2 linked regions of the Homo sapiens genome follow. The protein of the gene in region 2 interacts with the protein of the main gene of each other region in a biochemical or structural test. Each region holds a gene or a part of one and is shown on either strand. Other genes may lie near its edges.

Evidence for each region. The genes of interacting proteins can lie anywhere in the genome.
Region 1: the proteins of FBN1 (region 2) and LOX form a complex in vitro, tested with the Homo sapiens proteins (one study listed by IntAct).

The regions. Positions count from the first base shown.
Region 1 is NC_000005.10:122,068,260-122,075,259, reverse strand, and holds part of LOX (protein-lysine 6-oxidase isoform 1 preproprotein), read left to right. Parts: intron 1-1,090; coding exon 1,091-1,247; intron 1,248-4,670; coding exon 4,671-4,766; intron 4,767-5,091; coding exon 5,092-5,207; intron 5,208-7,000. UniProt on the Homo sapiens protein: Responsible for the post-translational oxidative deamination of peptidyl lysine residues in precursors to fibrous collagen and elastin. Regulator of Ras expression. May play a role in tumor suppression. Plays a role in the aortic wall architecture.
Region 2 is NC_000015.10:48,642,665-48,650,297, forward strand, and holds the start of FBN1 (fibrillin-1 isoform a preproprotein), read right to left. Parts: upstream 3,046-7,633; 5' UTR 2,911-3,045; intron 2,307-2,910; exon of another isoform or gene 2,287-2,306; 5' UTR 2,106-2,286; coding exon 1,942-2,105; intron 438-1,941; coding exon of another isoform or gene 371-437; exon of another isoform or gene 1-370.

The DNA of each region.
Region 1 (7,000 bases), on a different chromosome or scaffold from region 2:
ACATAACCCATCTACTACAAGATCCTGTTATCTTTTGAAATGGAAAATCTGAAGCCCAGCTTATTAAAGCTGTTGATAGGATACAGCAATTGACTTCAATAAAATTTACTCCAATGCATTACAGATAGGATTTCTTTAAAAGTCCATTACAGCCAAGATCATCTAAAGTTAGTTAGCATTAAATAGCATTTCATAAAGACCACACGTTTTTTATCACAAGCATTCAGAAACCATTCTCAAAGAAAGATGTAGATGATACATCCCATCAGCTCAGAAGGACCTTCTTCCATCTTTTAAAAGACCTGTATCAAGCCCAAGGTGGTTGCCTTTTCTATCCTAAATTTAAGGATTTTTGCATAAGGTAATTCTATCATTTGCCTTAGTAACTTGCCTGGGTGTTTATTTTCAGGAAATCCTCATGTGTGGCCTTAAACTTACTTCCTGAAATCCAAGCCAGTCCTCATTGTTTTTTCCTTATGTGGGAAGATGAACAGCTCAGCACCTTCCATTTAATGAAATAACAAAAGTAGATATAAGTCCCTTAATTTCCTGATAAAATAGGAATATTTTATTTCTAAATAAAAGTGTGTACTATTTAAATAATAATGGTGGATAAAACATGCCATGAGTTCTCCCTTGCTTTTCACTAATGATTTTAAATATGTGAGAACTCAATTTTTTAAAATCTCATAGAAACCTTGAAAAAGTCATGTGCTGCTTTTCGGAATGAAACATCAGCAGTGGCAGCCAAGGGGAATACACTAGAGAACACAGGGCAAGTTTCACTTAAGCACAGATAATTTATTGTCCATTTCTATTTAATATTCAAAGACAAAATGGGGTACAATAAGAAAGCAAAATACTGAACTAAGTCTTTTGTCCTAGTAGCAAAGTTAAACCTTACAATTTTGATAGACTTATGTCCTGGGGAAAAAAAAACCCTAGCATGAATCTCTCTTTTAGAAGATAAATTTGGTCTCAATTTTAATGTGAAAACAAATTTGTGAAGCCATGGGGGAAGTCATTTAATATCTTCATTGCTTTCTCTGTATGTAACTGACCACCATCTTTTTGTTTTGTGGGACATCAGACATTACCACAGTATGGATGAGTTTAGCCACTATGACCTGCTTGATGCCAACACCCAGAGGAGAGTGGCTGAAGGCCACAAAGCAAGTTTCTGTCTTGAAGACACATCCTGTGACTATGGCTACCACAGGCGATTTGCATGTACTGCACACACACAGGTATGTTGGCACCCTGAAATCCAGAACCTCAAGCCTCAGAGAGAAACGGGTCATCTACCGTTAGTTAGCATTAAATAGCATTTCATGAAGAGCACACACATTTTTATCAAAAGGATACAGAGACTGTTCTCAAAGAAAACTGTAGATGATATACCCCATGAGTCTAGTATTTTCTTTCCTCTCACCTCTCTTTTATAAAGCATTCAATTTGAGGTCCATGTTGTTAAGATGTAAAATAATTGGGAAAAGGCAAATGATGGCTTGATGATCCAAATTACTTTTGAAGTATTTCCAGTTATGCATGTGGCCCCTATTCATGATCACAGGTCAGTGTGGGTCCTTGTTACAGTCCACAATGAAGAACAAAAATTTACTCTCTGAAAAAGTCTGAATGGTTGACAACATATGCACCCATTCTGTATTCCTTAACCGGCTTAGTAAATAACTGTAAAAAAAGATATCTCTGTTTTTTCACCTGTGAAACCATTCCTTCCTTCTGTTTTATGCTGAAAATAGAATAGTGGTTGCGGTTAGCAAATGGAGGAAAAATAAGTTTCTTTAAAAGCACTTTAAAAAGTTGCCTCTTTTAATAATGCAAATAAGAGCAGAAGGACACCATTTCTTTCTCCACACATATATATTTAAATCTACAGTATAATTGATGTCAGATGTTGTTTGGATGGATTTTTTTAAAGTAGTGCTGAACTAAGCAGTTTGCATGTTTTATCATTGGAAAATGCGTGTCAGTTAAAATCTATGTCAGTATTTCCATATGAAACCCTAATTTGTAAAAGGACATTATAATTTGACTCCCGCCCAGATCTTGGCAAGGGGTAGTGAATGTACATAACTGAGGGTATGAAGGGATCAGCAGTTGGCATCTTGGGAAGCAAATTCCAGGGCTGTGGCAGGAAGCTGTTTGGTGACCTAAATGTTACCATTGCTTTTTTCTCTGAGCTTAGAACATCATAGCAATTGGAGGGGGAAAGGTTAACTTCTACATGCCCCAGGACAGTACTTACTTAAGAAAGAGGAGATGTAACTTACCCACACATTATTCATGTGTGCATATACAGATTCCCTTTTCAGTGATCTGCAAGTCCTGTGCAAGGGACCTAGAGTTTATTTGCCCCATTTACAAAAAGAGGCACTCTGGACAGCTCACTCTGAAATATTTGAAGCTGGGATTGTAGACATTATAGCACTTCTGGTTCCCCCCCTTCTTTGGGGTGACCCCATTTCATTTTATATGGTAGCTTTCTTGTTAATCATCTTCCATATATGTTCTTTTTAACCATTATTCACCAAATCTTGCATTGAGCGATTTATATATTTGTTTTTTTCATTAGATCAATGTCTCTTTCACATGGACTTCATTTAAAGGAAAAAATAGTCTCTCAATCACCTAATGATGACTCAGATTAGTTTATTGTAATGCTGCTTAAATGTATTCAAGCATAAAACTAGGTATAACTTCTTTAGATTTATACTTTTACATATTAATAACTCTTGTGTTCTGAGACAAAAATTTACATATTAAATATATACGAAACTAAAACAGTTGAATTCACCTTATTAATTTAATGTAACAAATAGTATGTATTGCTAAAACTCAAATTGCTGATTTAGAGAGCCTCAGCTAACATTCAACATTGAATCTGTTTTTATATTTTGACTTTGCCTACATGAAATGCCTATTTGCCTTAGTAACTCGTTTTTGCTTGCTTGTGCAAATAATCAAAGCTTATACTTAAGTTCTGCCAGCTTATGAACTCGAGTGCCAATTTCAGCATTTTTAAGGCTCTTTTGTCTATTTGAAGGCAAGATAAGCACTGAAGCATTATGTAAACCCATCTTAAATGAATATCTAATCCAGTGAATCCTTTACAATGTCATGAACATTGTGGTAGTAGTAGAAGTAATAACTAGCACTTATTGAGTATGTATTATATGCCAGAATCAGAATTGTATGCTGGAATCAGACCAAAAATTCTTCATTTTATATTTACTACTCAACATACTGTTAAGTGATGTATGGATCAAGGTAGGAATCTAGATAATAACAACAGAATATGAGTCTCACTGCTGTGACACTGACCCTTCTGAGTTGGGCCTGTCTGTGCTATTGTGTGCTCTATGACAGCACAATTCTCCCCTGCTCTTCCCAAATCAAGCTACAGCTAAACCAGCATTGGTAGAGCATGCTAAGGTGATTTTACTGTCTCTTGGGTGACCAAAGTGATCTTAAACAGCAAAGCAATATTGGTTGCTAGAATTGAATGGCAGTATTGAGTTAAAATGAATCTAGCATGTACTTTGAATTTAAATTACTATTAGAATAAAAATACAAGTTAAAACTTTTTGTGAAGAACTAATGGAATCAAGAATATACCTACAGACTCCAATCTGAGGAAACTTCTCTAGACTATAACATTCTTAAAAGCAAGGATTGTATTTGTTATATTTTTCTCCTCCCAGCCTGTAGAAGGCATTCATTTACTTATTGATGTGAATATTTTAGCAAGTGGAGTGATGTGGCATTCATCAATTTAGTCATGCATTTACCCCTTCAACAAAATATGTCATATTTCAGTGACTGTATGAGAGAGAGTATAGTGGGGTAGTTAAGAACAGGGACTCTGGACCTTGATTACCTAAACTCAAAACCAGCTTAGCCACTTACTAGGCTGGATACCCTTGGGTAAGTTATTTGATCTTAGTGTGCCTTAGTTTTCTCATCTATAAAATGGAGATAATAGCCCCTCATGTAGTTGTGAAAATTGAATTTTTATACACACACACACACACACACACACACATATAAATGTTTACGATTGTTCCTGCCACATACTATTTAATAAATGTTAGTTATTCAAAGATACAACGTAAACTCTACCCTTAGGGAACTTGCAGCCTCTGGTTAGCTATATTCTTACATAGCATGTTATAATGCAGAGCAAAAAGGGATAAACACTGTAAAAGCTATCCACAATAAAAAGTATCATGGACGTTCAAAGCACAAGAAGGTAATTTCCAAAAGGGGAAACTGGGGAGGATTTCACTGAGAAGAGGACATTTGAGCTAAGATAATTATTATGTGGCCTTTATTCCTGAACTGTTAAAATTCTAGAACTTTGGTAGAGGCCTATTTTGTTCCTTCAGATTGCATTTATCTCTGGTGATATATGACACTTTTAAGAAGTGAGGTGTACTACTACTTATATTAGTCCTGTATCTTTTTTAGCTGGAGGTGCTATAAGGCTGAGTAATAAATACTTCTCAAGGGAGATGAAATATAAGTATAGTTTTATGTCAGACTCTTGTAAGTACTAACTTAAAATTTAATTTGCAAATAATAGCATATTATTTATCATAGTCTGACCACATACCATAATTTTAAATTTTTTATTTTGTTTATCTTAGGGATTGAGTCCTGGCTGTTATGATACCTATGGTGCAGACATAGACTGCCAGTGGATTGATATTACAGATGTAAAACCTGGAAACTATATCCTAAAGGTAAAGACCTTTGAAAATATATCATATATTGATATTGCAGATCAATAGGCCCTCTTCTCTGGATTCAAATGTTAAATAATCATGGTATTGGAAGCAATTATACATCCTCAAACTATTTATAAACAATCTAATCTAATCTAATCTGTCTTATTTTAAAGAACTTCAGGGGAAAATATGCAGTCTCTTTCCATAACGTCTCCAGAGTTTAACCACTTACTTAAGTTAAAATCCCTTCCCTGCTTGATTTAGCTAAGTCCTCATTAACAATTTCCTTATTGTAGCCCTATGGAAAAAGAAATACTGAGGAACTCTTTGTGTTGCCCAGGTCAGTGTAAACCCCAGCTACCTGGTTCCTGAATCTGACTATACCAACAATGTTGTGCGCTGTGACATTCGCTACACAGGACATCATGCGTATGCCTCAGGCTGCACAATTTCACCGTAAGTGTTATTTGCTTAGCTAAGTAATTGTTGTCACAAATAATTTTTGTTCATGCCAAACATTATACATAGAATGTATCTGTTTCTGCTACTACAGCAGCTTTCTTGTAAGCAGACCAAAGGCAGAAAATGGTATGCAGTCTGATTTTATTTTTTTAAATAATGGAAGGCAAAGGAGAATGTACTAAGGTTTTTAGTTTTCAGGAGAAGCTTAGTTTTCAGGAGAAGACATAAACAGACCACAGTGTTTACCCAGAAGGCATTTGTGAAGGCCCAATATATCAAATTGCTCAATATGTAGAGTGGGTGAGCTTGTAGAAGCCCCAGTAGTTGCTTCTTGGCCCCTTCCTCGCAGTCCCTGAAAGAATTGCTAGGGTTCTTCAAAGTACATTTTGAAAACCACTGCCATAAAGTAAGCAACTGAAGAGTTCAGCCCCCTCTGGTCTGTACAAATCAAGATGTCATATATTTGAGTTCTAGAACCATTGATACTAGGAAAATACTCTGCAAAAGATTGAGGTGTGTGGAGGTTTCTTCATAATATTCCTACTCCTGAGACTCTTCTTAGAATGAAATACTGGAAGATATCTATTCACAGGGAGGTGCTCTGATGAAAATAATGAAAAAAGGTTGGGTAGGTTTGACTGCATGCCTGTCTGTCCTGCCCCATCTCCTTAAGCACTACCTCCCCAAGTGTTGCTGGGTGCTAGATTATAATTACATATGCCACTTGAGTTATGCCTTCCCAACAATGAGAATACTATTTCCATTGGAATGATACTCAACACTCATCAGCTTTGCTTTGTCACTGGAGAACCACCAGTGCCACTGGATCATACAGACAGGTATAGCAGAGCTATACTAGAATCTCATAATTAATAGAAATTTCTGCCTGATACAAAAACCCAGGACTTTCTACATAAAGAAGCAGAGACTGTGCTTTACAAGTGTTGTCACAACATTAGAGATAGATGAAGCCTGTGATAGCAAAAGGATAGCACTGAAAAAACAGAGTCACATACATTCTTCTGAACATGCCCACAGCACAGAAAACCTGGCAGGTTTTATGGCCCATATTGTGTGGAGTTGGTTATAGTAGAACCAACCCCCGACCCCCACCGCCAGAACACCATTATAATTTAAGCTAAAATAATTTGCACTTAAATAAACAGATTAGTTTTTTCTTAATTTTTATAATTCCTTAATTTATTCATCCATTCTCCATTTATTTATTCATTTGCACTCTCATTTTTGTACTGTTTGTTGATGCCCTGAGCTAGATATTACTGAATAATGCAAACATAAATAGGACTACTAATCTCTATACTGCTGTAGCCTTATTACACTATTTTCAGTTAATTACTTATGAATTTCTTTGTTTAATGTCTGTCTCCTGCTCTACTCAGTGATGGCTGTGATTTAGTCTCTTGTCCACTGTTGTATACCCATTGTCAGGTACAGGTCTGCCACCTTGCAGCCTCTCACTCACTGCTTAATGAATTTCTTTCTCAAATAATTTGAGTAAAGGCATTTTGAGTAGGGGAAGTGAGAGAATTACACATATAACTGTAATAGAGATACAATATGAGAAGTTTCATGAGGGATAAAATAAAATGTGGTGAGATCAGAAGGACCTTTGCTATAAGTTTGGTAACTCCCAACTATGTCTTACTGACTTCCCACTAGAAATAGGTCTGGAGAGGTCTGTTGCATAGAATGTCTCTTGCTTTTAATCAGTAGAATCCATTGAATTGGGTATTGCTAGATATTTAGAAGAAATAAAAATTGTTGTA
Region 2 (7,633 bases):
CCGTGTATGTGTGTGTGTGTGTGTGTGTGTATATATATATATCACTTATTATAAAATCTTATAATTAACATGAGAATTAGGAACACACATAATTACAATTCTATTAATACCCTGTTTTTAGGAAGGCTTTATAAATAGTTTACAATAGGATAAGGTCTGTGTTAATGATCAAATACTGTGAGGAGCACAGAGAGGTATCTCTCTATAATCACAAACAAATTTAAAACCAGAGAGAAAAAGCACAAGTGTGAGTAAAAGTGTGGCATCCTGTTAAGCAACAAAGTAAAGCTTAGTTTCTTTTTTCACATTCCCAAGGGAACACACTAGTTGGTGACAGCCCAGAGAAATGAGACAAATGTCTGACCAGGCCTCACACCTCTCTGCAGATCTTCAGCCACAGAATTAAATCCCCACGTCCTTTATATACAGGAGCAATCCTATCAGAATAGATATTAAGATATTATTATGTAGGAGAAATGTATTTTTGAAGGAAAAATACTGGACTAAATGAGGTCCTCTTGAGAACATATGAAAATCAGAGCCTCAGTCTACTTATTGAACTTGCCATGTGCCTTGCACACAGGGCAATAAACATCTGCTGTCTGATCAAGGTCAGGTTTACCATGATAAGCAAACTTCCTTCCAACATTATCGGAATTCTGGGTTTATTTTCCACGAAGGCCAAGATGGAACCGAATTAATCATAACTATTTTCTGTGCTATTTTATCACAGCCTAAGTGCTTGGCTCATACAATCATCTTGTCCTTACTCCAGACTAGGAGTCAAAAACTGGTCTGGTGAGTTTACTTTTTCTTCTCATATCTGGGCCATACAAACACAAATTTTACTACATATACATGACTATAACACCTCATAACAAAAAAAGAGTAAGTGAAATGAACAGCCACATATCCAAGTGGATACCATCACTTGGTGACCCAGAGCTATATAATAAAGCTACAGAACCACTCAGGAAAAGAGCATCAGCGAGAATGGTAAGAATTTAATACAAAATCTCCCTATATATACTGTCTGAATTTATTTAACAGGCTCCTCCAAGAAGATAAAAGGGGTCACTGACAGTCCATCCTGTTGTTTCCATGGAGGCTTTAACTTAAACAACTGCAGACAAATTTCTCTTAAAGGAAATGTATTCCCACTGTCCTTCAATACAGGAAAATGACAACCCTTAGTCAAGTCTAATTAAAATTTTTCCGGCTGAAACATCTGTAACAGCGGCATGGGAAGCCAGTGAAATGGTCAGTTGCATGTACACAACACAAACACCACTAGTTAAAAATACTCCCTTAAGGCCGGCCACAGCAGCCTTACTGCTGCAGTGAAACGGAGAGCCCCACACAACTCAAAAAACCAGTTCTCAGAACCACTTGCCCTGTTCTGCTTCCAATGTAGACATCTAAAGGAAGCATTGCCCAGAAAACCCAATCCGTAATTTTAATAAGCATAATTTACGGAAGAGTCAACTACTGTGTGATTTCTCCTCTGACTGTCATGGGAATCCCTTCCTTTCCTTGCCCCCTTTCAAATACAGCATCTACCAAGATGACCCCAAGGAAAGTACTTTCCTCTAGAAACAACCAGAATTGATATTGCAGGGAAAGGAACGGGCTTCTCCTCTTATCCCACTCGCAACTCCTCCCCTTCTTCCCCAAGGAACTCTTCTCGCCTCCCAAAATCTGCCTCAACAATGGCCCAAGATTCCATTTAACCACGTCCTCTCCTTTGGGGCAGAAATCTCTGGGAGTAGGGGCAAGGTAGTTTAACCACGAACGGGGTGGGGACTAAACAACCCTAGCACCTCTAAGGTGCCCCCAGGAGGTCTTGCCAAGGAGTCTTCCACAGGGAGAGTCATCCTGCCCGTTGTTCTGGATCTTGAAACTTGGGAGACCCACACCAAAGGAGGGAACCGGTTCCTTTACCCTTTAAGCGCGTCGTGTCCTCCACCGCCTCTTCTCTTGGCCCGACTGGCTCTGGTTTCCTTCACGTTCCCAGCCTCCAAATTGGCGTCCGCCCCATGGCTCGTGTAGGACGCTAAAAGCACGGTAAATCCCAGGGCGATCTCCAGCAGACGCCCTCGACGCATGATGCCGAGCCGCCACCGGCTCCCGCCGCCTCTTGCCGCGCCCGGGGCTCGGTCTGCGGCCGCCGCTGCGCCCTGAAGCGCACCGCGCCGCCGGGGTCCCGCTATCCCGCCGCCCGTCCCCCGGGCCGGGCTCCTCCCGCCTTCTCCAGGCGCTGCTCCCACTTCAGGCGGCCCCTGCCAGCTGCAACACAGAGACAAATCCCCGAGGCGGGGAGACTTTCAGGGCATCGGGATGCTGAAGCCTCGCGGTCCCCATTCCCAAGCCCAACCCGTGCGCCGCCTGCGCGTGGCGCAGTTAATTTGGGTAAGGGAAGACCGTTTGGTCCACAGCTGGCTGGAAAGCCCAGGCCCCCGGCGGCAGCAGCCCCGGCCGATCCCTCGGCCTCCCGGGCCCCGCCAGAAGAGCGCGGCGCAAAGTACCCATATCCCCAGCGGTCCTAAGCCCCGGGCGAGCTCTCTGGGTTTATTTTTTTTAGCGGCACGAATTGCGCGCGATGCGCGCTCTGAACGCCCCACTCCTCAGCCTGCCCTCTCCGCCAGGCTGGAAGCCAGCCGCGCCGTCCCCGCCGACTCCGGGCGATGCCACCGCCCCCCGAACATCTGACGCGGAGCCCGGCACCAAGAGCCCCGGGCCAGGAAGCTGTCAGGCAGGGGAGGGCCAGCGCCAGCTGTGGACGTTCCGGGACAGCCCCTCACCCCAGTCCCTGTCCCTGCCCTCGGCGCGGCGCAAACGCAAAAGCCTCCGTGGCCGCAGCTCCAGCCCCGGTGGCCGCCCGACCCCCGTCGGGACCCCGGCTGCACCCACTGGAGAAGCGGCGGCTCCGACTCCCGAGGAGGCGGCGGCGGCTGCTCCCAGTCGTGGCCGCTACAGCCACTGCTCGGCTCCGCTCGCAGCTGTCCCAGCTGTGGCTCCTGTCCGCTTGTGGCACCCACAGTCTCTGCCGCGGCTCCCGCAGCCCCCTCCTTTCCCCACCTCTTCAAGTATCGTCCGCGCAGCGGTTTCTCGCGAGAGAAATACTTTTTTTAAAAAAAGAAAGAAAAAGAAAATGACACCCCCTCCTTCGTCGCCCTCATCACCACCCCACCCCCCGGCCCCATCCATCCTCCCTTTCCACTCCCCTTTGCCAGCCTCCGCCTCGGTGCGGGGCCTCTCGCTCGCAGGATTAGCGCAGTGGGAGGAGGCAGAGGTGATCAGGTCCTGCCCGGCCTGGGACTTTTTGTCTTGAGGTGGGGAGGGGAGAAATGGGAAGAGGTGGAGTAGCGGTTTTAGCCCGCTCTGCGGCTGCGAGGTTTAGATCCGAGATTAACCTCTCCCGCGATAGGTGAAGCCCTACCGGAGCAGAAAGCTGTTCCACCTGCACCAAGAATGCGCGCTGGAGACGGTTGCCCCGGAGGCCCTGGCCCGAGAGAAAACCAGTCCCCGCTGCCCGCGCCTCCCGGTAGCGCGCTCCCTGCGCCTCTCCCGCCGGACACTCAGCAGACGCCGGAGGCCGGGAGGCTAAGACTGGGCGCGTCGCAGGCCGGGACCGCGGCAGAGGCTGCTGTGCCGACCGAGGAGAGGGCTCTGCCGCCCCCACTTGCCCTGGGTGTCGAGAGCCCACTCCAGACGCGGCTCTTCTGAGGCTCAATTCAAGCCACCCAGGCCTGAATCCAGGGTGCTCTCTCTAAGTCGGTGTCCAACCCAGGGGCCTGTAAATGTTGGAACCTAGGATGTAGGATGGGAGCGGTGAAGGGATGGTCCTCTTGCCCAGCCCAGATTAAGACTGGGGTTCATCTGGAGGACTCTACTTACACCCTCCCGGTCCCCTCGCCCTCCCCCACACACAGCTGCCTCTCCCCAGGATATGCGCGGCACAGTGAATTTAGTGGCTTTGAAAGGTATAGTATTTGTGGCATCCTTATATGGATAATGCCCAATGATGCCTGCACCCTGTAACAGTTTAGGAAGGCCTGAAGTCGCACACTGGGTCCTGGCTGCTGTAACTGGAGACCCCCAGAAGATCCCCTGCAAGCAGCCACCAGCCTGCTGTCAAGCCAATAATAAAAGCTCAGCACAAACAGGTACCCTGGGAATGTATCTTGTTGAAAGGGATTTTCCTTATTTGTAACCGTTTGTAAAGGGGCCCAGACAGTAGGGTAGAGAGACCTGGGCAAGTTATTCAACTTCTTTCCAAATACAAGATGGGACTTGTAGTGTCCACCACACAGGGTTGTAATGGTGATGATGGACATGCTGAACTGCTGTGATACATGAAGATGAAACAGAAAAACTGTGGGAACTATGAGCTGATCTAAAGCCATAGTCCTGTAAGTATGTATGTGGTGTACTTTAAGGTCTCACCTGCAAAAGGTCTCTTAGCAGATTCATGAATGAGAGCCTTGGTCACACACTCCTGGCTGAGTAAAGGAGATCATTCATTCAAGATGTTTTTACTGAGCACGAACTGTGTACTACTTAGTGCATTGTTGAACTAGACTTCAACAATTTTAACAAGGCAGGTTCAACAATTTGAACACGACTGACTTCAACAATTTAGTGAAAAGGGCAGAAATGTGTCTCCCCTCACACAGCAGGTAGTCAACAAGGAAAGGCAGACTTGAAACAAATAATGGACCAATTGTTAAGCGCCAAACAGGATAAGTACTGGGTGCTTGCTTGGAGGATATATAACAAGGGGACTTGACCTAGGCTAGGGCTGATCAGGAAAGGGATCCCTGAGGAAGTGATATTTAACTTAAGTCTAAAACATAACTAGACTCTACTTAGGATAGCAGTTCTCAACCCTGGCTATGCAGTAAAATAATAAGAGGCTTTAAAAAAATTCTGACACCAGGATGGGCATGGTGGCTCATGCCTGGGCCTGTAATCCCAGCACTTTGGGAGACCAAGGCGGGTGGATCACTTTAGACCAGTAGTTCAATAGCAGCCCGACCAACATTGTGAAACCCTGTCTCTACTAAAAATACAAAAATTAGCCAGGTGTGGTGGTGCATGCCTGTAAATCTTGCTACTCAGGAGGCTGAGGCACTAGAATCGCTTGAACCTGAGAGGTAGAGATTGCAGTGAGAGGAGATTGTGCCACTGCACTACAGCCTGGGCAGAACAGAGTGAAACTCTGCCTCAAAAAAAAAAAAAAAAAAAAAAAATCTGACACTGACACCAGGCCCCAACACCCAGAGTTTCTGATTTGAGTAGTCTGTAGTGGATTCTTCACATGGATATTTTTTAAAGCTCCCTGGGTAGGGAGGGGTAAGGAGGTAATTCACACTGGGAAAAGGATCTGAGCAGAGGGACCATGGATTAGGAGAAAGCAGGGCTGTTGGACATCCAGAAAGGCCTTGTCCTGCCCACCAGTTTTCTGGGCTGCTCTGCACCCACAGGGGACTCTGGAAACTGCATGCTTTCCTTGTACTCCAGCAGCATGCAAGACATGCTGTGCCCTTTCTCTCAGAATCTTACACTCAGTGACATGTTGGTCAGCAGCAACCAAACACAAGCCTTTTCTAAGGCTTCTGCCCAGGAAGTAAAGGCCAAATCCTGGTGCCCTGCAAGTCCCCTCTTCCAACATTTCTGGACATTTCTATTATTTCTAACTCAAACTGCCTTCCAGGGTTTCACCTCCAAGGGAGGGATTTGGATTAAACGTTTTTACCTGGCCTTTGCTTTCCCCGGCAACCTCCTCTTTATTCATTGGCCTCTTTCTCCAATAAAGGAAAGATTCTTCCTTCATATTGGGTGGCAGCTCCAAGCCATATACTCCCCTCTTTGAGCAATAAGTCTCATGTTCTGACCACAATGGTGGAAGATTACAGGGGAAGGGGAAGCAGGGGGAACTTGATTACTTAAAAGTAAATACATTTTAAATATACAAGAACTATTCCCGCTATCTAGGCAATCAACATGTATTAGAGTAGCATGCTACTTATGACAAAATTCAGTAACGAATAATAAAAATCTGTGTCTTTGCAATAAGATTTTCTTGATGCCAGATGATTGAGGACCCAACTCTCCTTAAACCTATCACAGACTTTTTTTTTTTTTTTCGTAATAGGTTGTTTTGCACTGTTTGCAAATTAAGTCCATGGGCTAGAATTCCTTGCTTCCATCTCCTTATTTCAAAGAATTCTATTCACCCTAAGAAACCTTGCTCAGATTCCTTCTTGTTCGTAGGTGTTTTAGCTCATGCCCATCTCTCTTGTTCTAACATCATTGCACTTATTAACTGAATCATTCACTTAATAGTTAATACATAATTATAGTATGCCTACTATATGCCAAGTGCCATGTCAGGCACTGGACATTAGGGATATTTCTTCTGTTGCTATAGTGAACTATTAGGTTGGCACAAAAGTAATTGCAGTTTTTGCCATTTAAAAGTACTAGCAAAACCGCAATTACTTTGGCGTCAACCTAAATATATATTTTTTTTCTGTAGCCATTGTACTTACTCCCCCTAGCTGTATGATAGATCCTTAAAGACAAGGTGGCATTCCTTATTCAAGGAAACTTGCTAGTGTCCTGAAAACTATGACAAAACACAAATACTTTGTTTGTTGTTGGATCAATTGAAATCTTTCTTTTTTTTTTTTTTTTTTTTGAGACAGTGTCTCGCTTTGTCACCCAGGCTGGAGTGCAGTGGCGCGATCTCGGCTCACTGCAAGCTCCACCTCTGGGATTCACGTCATTCTCCTGCCTCAGCCTCCCAAGTAGCTGGGAATACAGGCACCTGCCACCATGCCTGGCTAATTTTTTTGTATTTTTAGTAGAGATGGGGTTTCACCGTGTTAACCAGGATGATCAATTGAAATCTTGTGGCATTTTCAGCTTCAAGCCACTCTCATCATTTTATACCTCCTGTATAAATATCTATGTCAGCAAGGGTTCTTTGTCTACAAGCAAGAAAACTAGCTATGGAAAATTTCAGCAAAAAAAAAGATATTTTAAGTATTATCAGGTTATGAGATGGCTCATTGAACTTGACTTTGTGATAAAATGGGGAGTAGTACAGTTCTGGGATAATGGTAAGCAGAGAACCTCTTCAGGCTGATGTCATGTGAGTAAATCAATTCCAACCATTTTCATCTTTTTGCCACCCCTCTTGGAGTTCAAATTCAAAGGACAGGGTCCTTTTGACGTAGCTATTTAGGGAACTTGGGCACAATCCTGGCCAAAGGATGATGGAGTATCTTGATGGATAGTCCCAACAAGATTGCATGCCATGGGAAAAGGGTTCATCTATAAAAGATGGGCAAAACACTATTTTGGTCATGCACCAAAAATTGAAGGGCATTAATGCTTGTCAGGAGAAAAAAAAAAAATCCAGATGTCCATTACATCATCTCAAGAACTCTCAAGATGTTTAGAGCTTACTGAAATAAAGCATTTTCAAGCTTTACTTGGAAGAAGCATACTCTAAAATCAGCTTCTACGTCTTCCTTTGCAAACTAAATCATGACTTCACAAAAAGCTAACTAGACTTTCATGTAGCCTCAGTTCCTGCCATTGATGGTGGCAAATAGATCACTCA